Homo sapiens: one gene and its partners. The protein of the gene in region 3 purifies or fractionates together with the protein of the main gene of each other region. This does not show direct contact. Each region holds a gene or a part of one and is shown on either strand. Other genes may lie near its edges.

Region 1 (2,438 bases), on a different chromosome or scaffold from region 3:
CTGAGATGGAGTCTTGCACTGTCACCTAGGCTAGGGTGCAGTGGCACAATCTTGGCTTACTGCAACCTCCGCCTCCCAGGTTCAAGCAATTCTCCTGCCTCAGCCTCCTGAGTAGCTGGGATTACAGGCACGCATCACCACAGCTGGCTAATTTTTTGTATTTTTAGTAGAGACAGGGTTTCACCATGTTGGCCAGGCTGGTCTCAAACTCCATGATCTGCCTGCCTCAGCCTCACAAAGTGTTGGGATTACAGGTGTGAGCCACCACGCCCGGCCCATGAATAAGTACTTACTAAGTCTCTGTGATTTGGGGGTCATTACAACAGACTGCCTGCTCAAACACAGTGACAGAAAAAGAGGCACCAGTTTCTGTATCTACAGGGAGCAGTTAAGTTTATGCGCAGGGAGCAGTTAAGTTTATGCGCAGGCAATGGGAATGATACTGTAATCTTGAGAATAAATGCAATCAATGAAAAGATCACCTTATGTAGCCCAAGGAGTTTAGTCTCCTTTGCTCAGACAGACAGATCTTTATTAGTGTTTTCAACTTATTTTGCTCACAACTTCCCAGCAAGAAATGTCTTACATTGCAACCAGTTCTCACATTTAGATGTATGGGTGAAAAGTTTCACAAAACAGTATTTGCCTTTACTACATGATGCATTCTGGCCTACTTTATTCTGCTTCATTGCTGTGTAATGCTGGTGACCACTTGCTAATTGATTTCCCATTTTACTAAATGGGCTGGGACCCACGGTCTGAAAACCCTGCCTTAGGCTGCAAGCATTTCTGTGATCTCTGCGAGCTACTCCATATAGGTAAACACACGCGAGGTAAACTAGGAAACAGCTTCTGCTTTTGCAGATTAGAAGTGAAGTTGACATCACGCCAAGTACGAAAAGGCTAAACAGCTGACAAAATTTCCACTTGAGCAACCCTGGGGAGCGCAAACAGGAGGAATCGGGGCAAGGGTGACTTGAAGAAAGCACTGGCAGATCACGCACTTTAAGGCAACTCTACACTGCACAATGTCAAATAACCTAGCATGGGGCGGCACTAAATGGCTGCAGGAAAGCCGAGTCTTCTTCCACATCCGGCGGCTCCCCTCGGATGCGAGCGCTGGCCCAGGGTGTGTTTACAGAGGTGAGGGCTTCCCGTGGACCCTTCTCGTTGGGAGCGCTTAGCCTCAGGAGCGGATTCAGGGCACAGGCAGAGGACGTCCACAAACACCACAGGAAGCCGCCACCCAGGGGCGTGGAAAGGCCCAATGCCTCGTCTGGGATTCACGGCCGGCAAAGCGGCCCCTCCGGAACGGGACAGCACAGCGGCTCACCTCTGCGCCTCTGGGGGTGCGGGGGGAGCCTCGCCCTCCACGCTCTCTGGGGGACCGCCCGCCCTAGCCCCCGCCTGGGCTTCGCGGGTGGACGGTTGGGGGCCCCGGGCGCCCCCCAGCGCGTAGCTTTTCTCCTTCTCGTGGGTCTTCTGGTGCTCGGCTAGGGCCAGGCTGAAGTGGAAGGTCTTCCAGCAGCCCTGACAGGCGTAGCGCTTCCGGCCGCCATGGCTGCTGTGGTGCTCCATCAGGTGCGAGAGCCACGCGAAGGCCTCCCCGCACTCGCCGCAGGCATAGGGCTTCCCGCGGGACAAGCCCGGCTCGTCAGCCCCAGGGCCCTGCCCGGCCTCCAGCCCTGCGCTGTCGCCGGAGCTAGAGACGCCCTCGAGGCTCTGCCCGTCCCCATCCTCGGGGTGCGGCCTCTTGGTTCCCAGTTTCGCCGTGCCCCTGTCCGGGGCAGGCTGCTGGATGACGGACTGCCTCTGCGATCCGGTGGCAGAGTCGGACTCCGCGTCCTGGGGGTCCTGCGGGTCCGGGGCCTTCCCAGGCTGCTCTTCCTCCTCCTCAGTGGTGCCCGACGGGGGATCGGCAAGGGCGTCCCCAGGGGGCGCCTCCGTAGGCAGCTCAGGCAGCACCCCCGCGGGGGCGGCCTCCTCGCAGGCGCACCCAGCGCTCTCCTGCCGCCTCCCGCCTTCTGGAACAAGGTCAGAGCCCTAGCGTGAGCGCCCCGCCCAGGGCCAGGGAGAGGAGGACCCAGCCGAGCCTCAGCTGCCGGAACAGCGCACAGGGCTCCGGGCTCTGGATCCCCGCGGGGCTCACGGCTGTTTGGAAGCAGCGCTGTCCCTCCCAGGCAGCCCTGCAGCGCATGCCCCGCGCCTGCTGCTGCAGATGTGGGACCTGGAGGCCTCCAACAACGGAGGCCACCGACAGGACAGGAAGGACAGCCCCACTGAGCCCGGGTTCTGGAAACCGCGCCTTTGGAGGTCTCCACCTGGCCACTAGCTTGGCCACAAGATGCACGATGCAAGGAGAGCCTGCTCAGAGCGCACCCTCCTGGAGGGAGGGGCCCGGCTGCCAGCGAAGAGAGTGGGGTCAATAGCTAAGGCCA
Region 2 (3,198 bases), on a different chromosome or scaffold from region 3:
ATCATGTAACACCTCCATCAGTAACCAAGTAGTGGGAAGCAATTAATGAAAACATCTTGCTTCATTAATACTGTAAATAACATACGCAGTATAGCCTATTAATACTATACTCAGAACCAAGTGAAAACAAAGCTTTGCTCAGGAAGACTTGAAACATCTACACTTTATTTTCCAACTCAACTTTTTTCTGTTAAAAGCCAACCATGTAAAAACTGATGACAGGTCACACTGGATGGCAGAAAATACAGTACTGCTTTTAACTACTCTGTACAAGGGATAAATGACTAAGGGCACTGTACCTCCTTTCCTCCCCTTCTCTGAGATCAGTGGTCTGAGCACTTTAGGAGCTTAAAATGCAGGTGCAGGGAGCTAGGAATCAGAGGTGTGGCTTGCATTTCAACCTTTAAGGTCAATTGGTTAGCTTGCTTTTACCACAAATAAAGCTCTTCTTAATTTCTCTAGTACAGTCTTAACTTGATATGAAGCACTTACACGAGGAATGGTGCAGACAAGGCAGCTTTATTGTACTTTGGGGGAGAAAAACATGATTCCATTTACGGGGAAAAAAGCCATTGACACTCAGTAAGCAACACTGCCATCTAGTGGAATGGTGACACACCACCAAGAATTTCAAGACCCGATAGGAAATGTGAGTGGATTTGGTTTCAATTTTCACCACAAAACAGCACTTTTAATAAGCTGGTTTTCAGAGAACTTCAGATTTTTTTGAGAAACTACTTTTTATCTTTAAAATGCATAAATGTATGTGTTTTCTCTGTTTTGGGGGGGTGGTTAAGAATGAGTTGTATTTTTCTTATTAGAGCATAAAGTTCTCTACTTGAAAGTTAGAAAACACTTTGGGGCAACCTGCCTCCTTGAACATCCATCACTTCTGCTTGACAGTCTAACAGCAACCCCTGATTTTAACAGACAGTTTATAAAGAAGCAAAACTCAACTGTACAAGAACGACATTAAGTTTTCTCATTTCCTCTTTCTATTTTTACAATCTATGGTGCTAAGTATTTGTACTTCACTTACTTGAATTCCTGGAAAAAAATCATTAGAACACACCAATAACAATTTTGCATAAATCACATAACCCAACTCTTATTATGACTGCACAGTAACAGTGGAAGATATTGGTGTGAGGATGTGGGAATGCAGTTCTTAATGAATAATAAAGTAATTCTTCAGGTTTTAATTCGCCTTTATACCCAGGTGTTGGAGTGAATGTGTTGATCTGATGACTTCTATGAGCATATAAATGAGAATACTTAATGAAACACCTGGATGAAAAAAGAAATAAAGTAGTGAGGATAACATATTGTTAATAACCACAATCTCATATTGACATTTCTGTTATTACTGAGATTTCAGATTCTGGGTTAAATGCTCTGCTCTTTGGAATATCCACGATGGTTATTGATCTTGCTAATGGGTTCCTCTATGGCAGCATTTCTGGGTTTATGGTTGGAGGCACTCACGGATTCCAGAATGCATGAGTCTGACACGGTCTTCATCAAACCATATTCTTGGCAAATAATAAACTCCTTTAAGGATTTCAGGGAAGAGCCAAGCTCTGGGAGAGAGGTATATAAGTGTAGAGTAAGAAGTTGAATTAAAACATTTTTAGTTGCATTTTGTCAGTAGACAAAACTGAATGTTTCAATTCTGAGAACCTGAGATTGTCCAGAAAAAAACAAAGTTCAGTGTATGGGACATGAGTGATCACAAAGTCAGAACCAGGTTATTTTGCATTTTTCACAGCAGCATTAACTGGGGGGGTGGGGGGAGGGGTCCCTGAAGTTCTGTATCTGAATGAGGCTGGGTTTTTGTTTCTGTTTTTTTTTTTTACTGACTCAGTGTTCACTGCAATTTGCAATAATCTCCCCTTCCCCCAAGTCTGAAGCCTTCCTTCCCCCCTATTCAAATTGTCTGCGTCATTCTCATAATGCTACTATTTGGGTACTCCTGAAGCCAAACCAATAAAAAATGCTAGGGGAGCTTTATATGAATTCAAACATGATGCCAAAGTCATCTCCAAAAAAGTTTATTAGCATGATTAAAAACATTTTCTTGAATAATAACAGAAAGAATTTCTAAACATGAAAGAATATCAGTGGCTATACCTTAAAACCAGTATTTGGAATTGAATGGACAGCTTTATTGCCAGTCTTCAAAAAACAATCCATTGATTGGTTCCATGAAGTCGTGACTATTGCTTTGTCTGGGAATGAGTCCCTACTGCAATTAAGTATAAAAAATATCTTCCATCATAATTGGAGTGTGACCTGCATTGGAGAGTGGCTCTGAGTAAAGAGTTGATAAAAATCCACAAAGAGTTGGGTTTTTGTCTTTTAAAAACATTCCTTTACACACTACAAAGAAATAATTAGTATTTTGGCTTTTTAAATTCCTACATGATATTTAGAATGGCGGTCCCCAAGGGTCCTCCCTTCACGTAATTGTGAACACAGACCCTCTTCCAAGGGCACATCCCGGAGGGTGCGGACTCTGAAGACTTCGACCTCCACGTGTTTATACTGGTTTGAGAACAAAGACAGCGTCATCCAGAACGTAGTAGTCATTATACATGTCGCCTTCACACAGGTATGGTAGTCTGGTGAAAGCTTCGATAACAAAACCAGCTTTTCTGAAAACTTCAGGCAGACTATTCACTTGTTCTTCCCAGTTCTGTCCTTTGATTTCCAAAATTTCTGATGGTTTCTCCCACTTGCCACCTACTAATACAAATAAGAACATTCAGTTAAATTCTTGAACAAACAAGTGATTTAAAGAGGGAAGCAGGGAGGAGCCATATCTACCAAGGACTTGGTACGTTCCAAGCCTGAGGGCTTCATGAGTTACCTCTTTTGTACTTCCCAGGTACTCTTTGAGACAGGTGGGCAGATAAAGAACAGACTCAGAAGGGGTGAAGAACTTGCCCACGCTTGCAAGGTTAATGAGTGTCAGTATGGAAATGTAAGCCCAGGTTTGTCTGGATCCAAGGCCCCACACTGTTATCTTCTCTGACAGTTTTGGGTAGTATCTGCCAATAGACTGACTGCAGGGTGTAATGGTTAATGGGTTTGGAAAACTGGTCATTAAATGCTGGAATACTGAAACAGAGAGCAACATGTAATATCTGAAGGACAGTTTTGGACAAATGCAAGAAAATACCACTGGCATAGTAAACT
Region 3 (3,500 bases):
CAAAGGACAGGATCACATCAGAACTGCTAAAGGAATTGTGGGCCGGGCATGGTGGCTCACACCTGTAATCCCAGCACTTTGGAAGGCCGAGTTGGGTAGACCACCTGAGGTCAGGAGTTCGAGACCAGCCTGGCCAACACGGCAAAACCCCATCTCTACTAAAACCACAAAAAAAAAATTAGCCAGGCGTGGTGGTGCACACCTGTAATCCCAGTTACTCGGGAGCCTGCAGCAGGGGAATTGTTTGAACTCGGGAGGCGGAGGTTGCAGTGAGCCAAGATCCAGCCACTGCACTCCAGCCTGGACAACAGAGGGAGACTCCATTTCAAAAAAAAAAAAAAAAAAAATGGACTTATGCCCAGTGATTAGAGACAAGGCCCTTCACTTTCTCCGTGCCAGCACCAACATTCCAAGGGGCCCTCCATGTCTGCCTGAAGACCATGCCACCCAGAGACAAGGTTATAAGGCAAGAGCATCTTTCTTGTGTAAGGTGGGAAAGGGAAGCTGTGCCAAGGAAGGAAAGAAAGTAGGGCTGGCTTCCCCGGCATTCTCAGGCACAGCAGTTATAGGGAAGAGAACGTATGGAAGCTGAGGACCTAGAAACTAATTTTCTCAACACTCTCTGTGCACCTGTGTATGGCTCAGAAAGGACAGTGTTTTTGACGGAACAGTGGCTCCAGTCTAACAGCTACTGACTCAGATGGCCTCTGGCAGGCTCCACCTCCAGGCTAGTTTTTCCAGATCGCAGGGCTATAAAAACTGAAGAAAGAAACCAAACCCTGATCAACTAAAAGGGAAACCCACATATTACACGCCTTTTGATATGGGTAATACATCTGCAATACACAGCACCATGACATCTTCATGCCTGAAAAATGGAATCTGAACTAATCAAGACTCCAGGTCTAACTCTCAGCTTACAGGAAATACAGGGGACTGAGGAACAAGTTAGGCAGCACCACGAGGAAGTAATCAGCCAACATTCTAGAGACAAATGACCCAGTTTCTCCAACAAATTACTAGCATGAAAAAAAAAATGAACTGTTAAAAAATTAAAGAGACTTAAAAGATATAACAAGCAAATGCAATATAGAAACCTTGTTTGGACCCCAATTATAACAAAACAATATTAGATGACACCTTTAGAAAGATGAAGAAAATCTGAATATGGACTGGATGTTAGATCATAAAAAGGAATTATTAATTTGGTAGGTATAATGGCCATGTGATTATGTTTATTTTTAAAAAGTCATTCAGTTAGACATGTGTGTTGAATTTACAGGTGGAATTACATGTCATCTGGGATTAGCTTTTATAAAATATTCTAACCTCCCAAGAAGTTTTGGGGAGGACAGGTGAACTGAGATTAGCAAAATGTCAATAATGATTGAAGTTGGGAGATGGGTGTCTGGGATGCATTACAGGCTTCTATCCACAATTTTTACATGTTTAACAATGTCTATAATATGCTGGGTTCCATAACTCACGCCTGTAATCCCAGCACTTTTGGAGGCCTAGGCAGGTGGATCACTTGAGCCCAGGAGTTCAAGACCAGCCTGGGCAACATGGTGAAACCCCATCTCTGCAAAAACTCAAAAATCAGCCAGGCACGTTGGCACATGCCTGTAGTCCCAGCTACTTGGGAGGCTGAGTTGGGAGGATCACCTGAGTCCAGAGAAGTTGAAGCTGCAGTGAACCATGACTGTGCCACTGTACTCTAGCCTGGGTGACAGGGTAAGGCTCTGTCTCAAAAAAAAAAAAAAAAAAAAAAAAAAGGCCTATAAAAAAGATCTTTTAAGGGAGAAGGGGAGGAAAAAGTATATTTAGTTAGAGCCAACTATGTATTAGGCTAGGCCTGTGCTAGGCCCTTACCAAATAAGATCTTATTTCCCTAGTCCTGAGGCAGCTGTCAAATAAACCTCGATTGCTGTCTAAAGAGAAATGGGCATTTGATAAGCTGGGAAATAAATATGGCAGGTGATAAGAGGGAGGTGTTAGTGCCTGAGGAACACAGAGATGCATCTAGGTCGCAAGGGGAGGGACTGAAGACAGCCCTTGGCAGACACATGTCAGAATCAGTATGCCTCAATTTCCATTTCTCCTACTACATGCTACTTACCCCTGCAGCAAAGCCAAGACTTCCATCTAAGATCCGCCTCTGAAAATCAAAACAAGATGTTTCAGTTTCCAAGAGACAATAAGATGATGTTTCCTGGGACAAGAAGAAACCATAAGGCCCAAAAGAGCCACGCAAATAAAGACTGGCCGACTCCTGAGCTCGTGAGCTACTCAGTTTATACCATGGGCCAAGAACCACGGGGAAAGTCTTTGGTTAACTTTCCACCCACCCCATAGCCAATCAGAAGCGTTCTTTCAAGTGGTGCTTGGCTTGTCTTGGCCCTTGTGTTGTCTCTTACTCAGCTTTCCCTGTGAATTACAACTGTAAACCTTTAGTAAGTAGCCTGTCTACAAGTTGGGAATTACTGAGCGTTGGTGAGGAGCAGAGGAGCAGGTGGAACAATCAAAACCCTCACACAGGCCGGGCACAGTGCTCACATGTGTAATCCCAGCACTGTGGGAGGCTGAGGCGGGCAGATCACCTGAGGTCAGGAGTTCAAGACCAGCCTAGCCAACATGATGAAACCCCATCTCTACTAAAAATACAAAAAAAAATAGGCTGGGTGCAAGGGTTCATGCCTATAATCCCAGCACTTTGCGAGGCCAAGGCAGGTGGATCACCTGAGGTCAGGAATCTGAGGTCAGCCTGGCTAACGTGGTGAAACTCCATCTCTACTAAAAATACAAAAATTAGTCAAGCACGGTAATGCATGCCTGTAATCGCAGCTACTTGGCTGAGACAGGAGAATCCCTTGAACTCGGGAGGCAGACATTGCAGTGAGCCAAGATCATGCCATTGCACTCTAGCCTAGGCAACAAGAGCAAAACTCCGCCTCAAAAAAAAAAAAAAAAAAAACCCTCACACAATGGCGGTGCAAACGGGTACCACCATTTTGGCAAACTATTTGGCAGCACCGATGAGAGGTGAACACTATGTGTGCCACTCCTGAGTAATCCCATGACAGGAATGCACTTGTATTCAACAAACCCATGAAGAAAAATGTTCGGCAGTGCTAAGAGCCCAAAACTAGAAACTACCCAAACTCTCACCAACAGTAGGATGGATATGTTAACTAGGATACACTCATACAACAGGTACCATAATGGCGATGGGAACGCACACACATACTACAGTTACATCTTACAAACAGACAGGGACATTAAAGAAACTGGAAAACAAGTAGGGTAAAATCAGCCAGATGCAGAACAGTACGTACTATATGATTACTCCATCTAAATAAAGCACAGAAACAGGGAAAATATCCGTGCTGTTAGAGATCACATGGGAGATGACCCTTGGAGTAAAGGTTGGGGATGGTGAGATTGGAAGGGAGACTGAAGGCTCCTGATTGGAAGGGGCTGTGAGGTGAGGAGCTGGTACT
Region 4 (3,335 bases), on a different chromosome or scaffold from region 3:
ATTTTCCATTGCTCCAAAAGTTACCTTGTGCCTATTAGTAATCAACTCCTGTTTTGTTTTTGTTTTTTGTTTTTTGTTTTTTTAATATTTTAAAGTTTCTCAGTTAAGACTGGGCACGGTGCCTTATGCCTGTAATCCCAGACCTTGGGAGGCTGAGGTGGGAGGATCACTTGAGCCAAAGAGTCCAAGACCAGCCTAGGCAACATAGTGAGACCCATCTCTACAAAAGAAATTGAAAAATTAGCCGGGTGCGGTGGCATGCACCTATAAGTCCTAGCTACTCAGGAGGCTGAGGTGGGAGGATTGCTTGAGCCCAGGAGCACTGCAGTGAGCAGAGATCAGGCCACTGCATTCCAGCCTCGGCGACAGAGTGAGACCCCATCTCAAGAAAACAAAAAACAAAAAAGTTTCTCATTTATATAGCTATGATCATTTCAGAAATGACCTATGCTATGTTTTCATTATTAATAATTCTAAGAAAGGTAATGAAAGTTTAATGCGGTAGAAGAGTAAATAATTCAACATAAAACTACCTCTTGGCATTTATTCTTCTTCTGTTAGGTTTTTTGAGAAGATTTTCCTAGAGGCTCTCAGATAATCTTTCTCAGAGGGTGAGATCATGTGTGATACGCTTAAAGCACTGGGGTCAGTCGGGGCACACTGGTGTTCATTGCTGCTGTGATTTTGTTGTTGTGAAATGATTTTTCTTTGCCGTGTAATGTTCTGGAGGTTCCATGAAATCCACTGATAATTCTTTAAAGGAGAGGAAGCCAGCTTAAACTAAAGGTTCTTAATTATTTCAAGCAAATTAATATAATTTTTAAAATAAATTTTACACATATTTTTCTTAGAACAATTTCGCTATGTTCAAAATGTATCATGATCTATAGAAAAACTGAAAATCATGAGAATTCTAGTTTTAATTTTATTCTCATCATTCTCAATAGACACTTGGGTGAATAACTCTGGGAAAATCTCTCTGATATCTTCTCTCTCTCTCTGTCTCTCTCTCCAGGCCCACATATCCACACATTTATGAACATACATGTCAGAAAAGCATATCTAATTCTATGTGCATATATATGCATACTTTCAAAATAAAGTCCTTCATTAATTGGAGTATAGCAGATAAATATATCTTAAGCAGCAGTTCAGTGAATGTTCACATATTAAATGCACACATATGACCACCACCTGGATAAATAAAAGAACATTACCAGCACTCCAGAAGCTTCCCTCTTCTTGATTCTTGATCATTATTCCAACAGCAAACCATATAGGTTAGCTTTACCTGTTTCTGAATTTCACATAAATGGAATAATACAAAATGTATATGGCTTCTTTCATTTTTTGTGAGATTCATCCATGTTGTTGCAAGTAGTATTTCAAGTATTTAATTGATGTATTGTTTTTCATTACATGAATATACTACATTTATTCTGTTCTTGATGTAAATTTAGGTTATTTTCAGTTTTGGAGTATGAATAATGCAGCTACGAAAATTATTCTATATATATTTAGGTGTATGTATGTATATATATATATGTATTTCTATTGGGCATATATCTAAGAGAGAATTACTGACTCATAGGGAATATGTATGTTCATTTTAGTTGATACGGGTTTTCTCAGTGATAGAACCAAGTTATATTCTCACTAGCAGTGTATGAGAGTTCCAAATTTTCCACTGCCTTCACAATGCACAGTATTATCTATCTGTTTTTTTGTGGATCCATCACGTTATCCCATAGTAATTTTAAGTTGCTTTACCTTGATGATGAATAAAGTAGAGAATGTTTTTATATGTCTATTGAGTATTTGCATACTCTTTTGTGAAGTACTCATTCAGGTTTTCTTTGTCACTTTTCTGCTAGGTTTGTCCTTCCTTTTTTCCTTATTTGTATAAGTTTATTATATGTTCTGGGAATTGGTTCTTTTTCATAAAATCTATTGAATTTTTTTTCTCCTGCTCTGTAATTGCCCTTTATTATTTTCCTAATGGTGTTTTTAAAGAACAAGGTTCTTAACTTTAACATAATGTAATGTATTAGTCTGTTTTAATGGTTAGTGCCTTATGCCCTATTTATAAAATCTTCACATACCCAAAAGTCTTGCAGATATTTTCATGTAAGTTCTAGAAACTTTTTAAAGCCTTTTTCTAAAATAAACCTTTATGTTTACATCAACAGGTCATCCATTGTAGGATGTAGGGGATCCGTTTTTACTTTTTTCCCTTATATGAATATCCTACTGATCTGGCACTAATTACTTAAAAGACCACCCTTTCTCCAAACTGTAAGCTCTATTTTATATTTCTATTACTTTGCTAATTTTTTTCAAGTCTCTTCTTCCTACGTTTTTCACAAATCTCTTTTTATGCTTCTTGCAATATGTCTATCAATGATTTTATTTTTTTCTCCCTTTTTTCCTTAGCCCTGCCAGTTTACTTTTTATCTTTTTTAAGCTTATTTGTCTATTAATTGAGTTTTTTTTTTGAAGAGGCTGTTTTTTTAAATTTATGTACAATTTGTACCTGCTTCTGATGAGTATTCTTAAGTTTGCAATATTTCTTTCTTCTTATTCATCAGTATATTTGCAGACATGGTGCTGCTGGCCTTTTTTCTTCTTTTTCACCTCCTTCTCCTCATCCCCTCTTTTCTTCCTTCTTTTTATTGTTCATAATCACGTATCTCGAGTGGGTATAATGGAGGTGTCTTAATCGACTGGCAGAAAAGGAAGAATCAGCTGGCGGTTTGAACTTTGTCCTCATAACTACATATTTTTTTTCATTTTTGTTTCTGCCTGAACTAGTGAATTTGTTCTAGACTAGCAGAAAGTCTTTTTGTTTCATAAGGATGTCAAGCATGTCTATTTTGGGTATGATACTTTACATCAGGAGTGTAGATCAGTATAGTTTCCGTTTCACCTTATCTTACCAAGAACTTACTCGGTAAAAATAGTATATCAGGATGCTAAATGAAATTTACGACTCCCCTGGCAAATAACTTCTTATTGCCATTCCAAACAACAGGTCATTGGTTTTCCTCCTTAGGGTGAATCCTTATTTTGGAAGACTCATGCTGTGTCCATTCTGTCTCTCTCCTTCTCCGTGATCTGTTATGGGGTTATGGACACAGTCAATTGTTGTTTTATGTATAGCTAGAGGTTCATTTGCAATATTTGAGCCTATGAACCTGACATTTGTGCTCTCACTCATATATAGAAATCAAAAAGTTGATTTCATAGGACTAGAGTGTGGAATGTTGGTTACCAGGGGCTAAGCCAGCTGGAGAGAGGGGTTGGGGAGATTTTTGTCAAATGATACCACATTTCAG

The links. The genes of interacting proteins can lie anywhere in the genome.
Region 1: the proteins of SLC39A11 (region 3) and ZSCAN18 purify together in Homo sapiens (affinity purification with mass spectrometry; one large-scale study listed by BioGRID and IntAct). This does not show direct contact.
Region 2: the proteins of SLC39A11 (region 3) and METTL9 purify together in Homo sapiens (co-immunoprecipitation; one large-scale study listed by IntAct). This does not show direct contact.
Region 4: the proteins of SLC39A11 (region 3) and CHSY3 purify together in Homo sapiens (affinity purification with mass spectrometry; one large-scale study listed by BioGRID and IntAct). This does not show direct contact.

What each region holds. Positions count from the first base shown.
Region 1 is NC_000019.10:58,083,356-58,085,793, forward strand, and holds the end of ZSCAN18 (zinc finger and SCAN domain-containing protein 18), read right to left. Parts: intron 2,025-2,438; coding exon 1,330-2,024; 3' UTR 501-1,329; downstream 1-500. UniProt on the Homo sapiens protein: May be involved in transcriptional regulation.
Region 2 is NC_000016.10:21,654,774-21,657,971, reverse strand, and holds the end of METTL9 (protein-L-histidine N-pros-methyltransferase isoform 1 precursor), read right to left. Parts: intron 2,746-3,198; coding exon 2,540-2,745; 3' UTR 501-2,539; downstream 1-500. UniProt on the Homo sapiens protein: Protein-histidine N-methyltransferase that specifically catalyzes 1-methylhistidine (pros-methylhistidine) methylation of target proteins.
Region 3 is NC_000017.11:73,082,689-73,086,188, forward strand, and holds part of SLC39A11 (zinc transporter ZIP11), read right to left. Parts: intron 2,159-3,500; coding exon 2,120-2,158; intron 1-2,119. UniProt on the Homo sapiens protein: Zinc importer that regulates cytosolic zinc concentrations either via zinc influx from the extracellular compartment or efflux from intracellular organelles such as Golgi apparatus. May transport copper ions as well.
Region 4 is NC_000005.10:130,180,465-130,183,799, forward strand, and holds part of CHSY3 (chondroitin sulfate synthase 3), read left to right. Parts: intron 1-1,995; exon of another isoform or gene 1,996-2,295; intron 2,296-3,335. UniProt on the Homo sapiens protein: Has both beta-1,3-glucuronic acid and beta-1,4-N-acetylgalactosamine transferase activity. Transfers glucuronic acid (GlcUA) from UDP-GlcUA and N-acetylgalactosamine (GalNAc) from UDP-GalNAc to the non-reducing end of the elongating chondroitin polymer.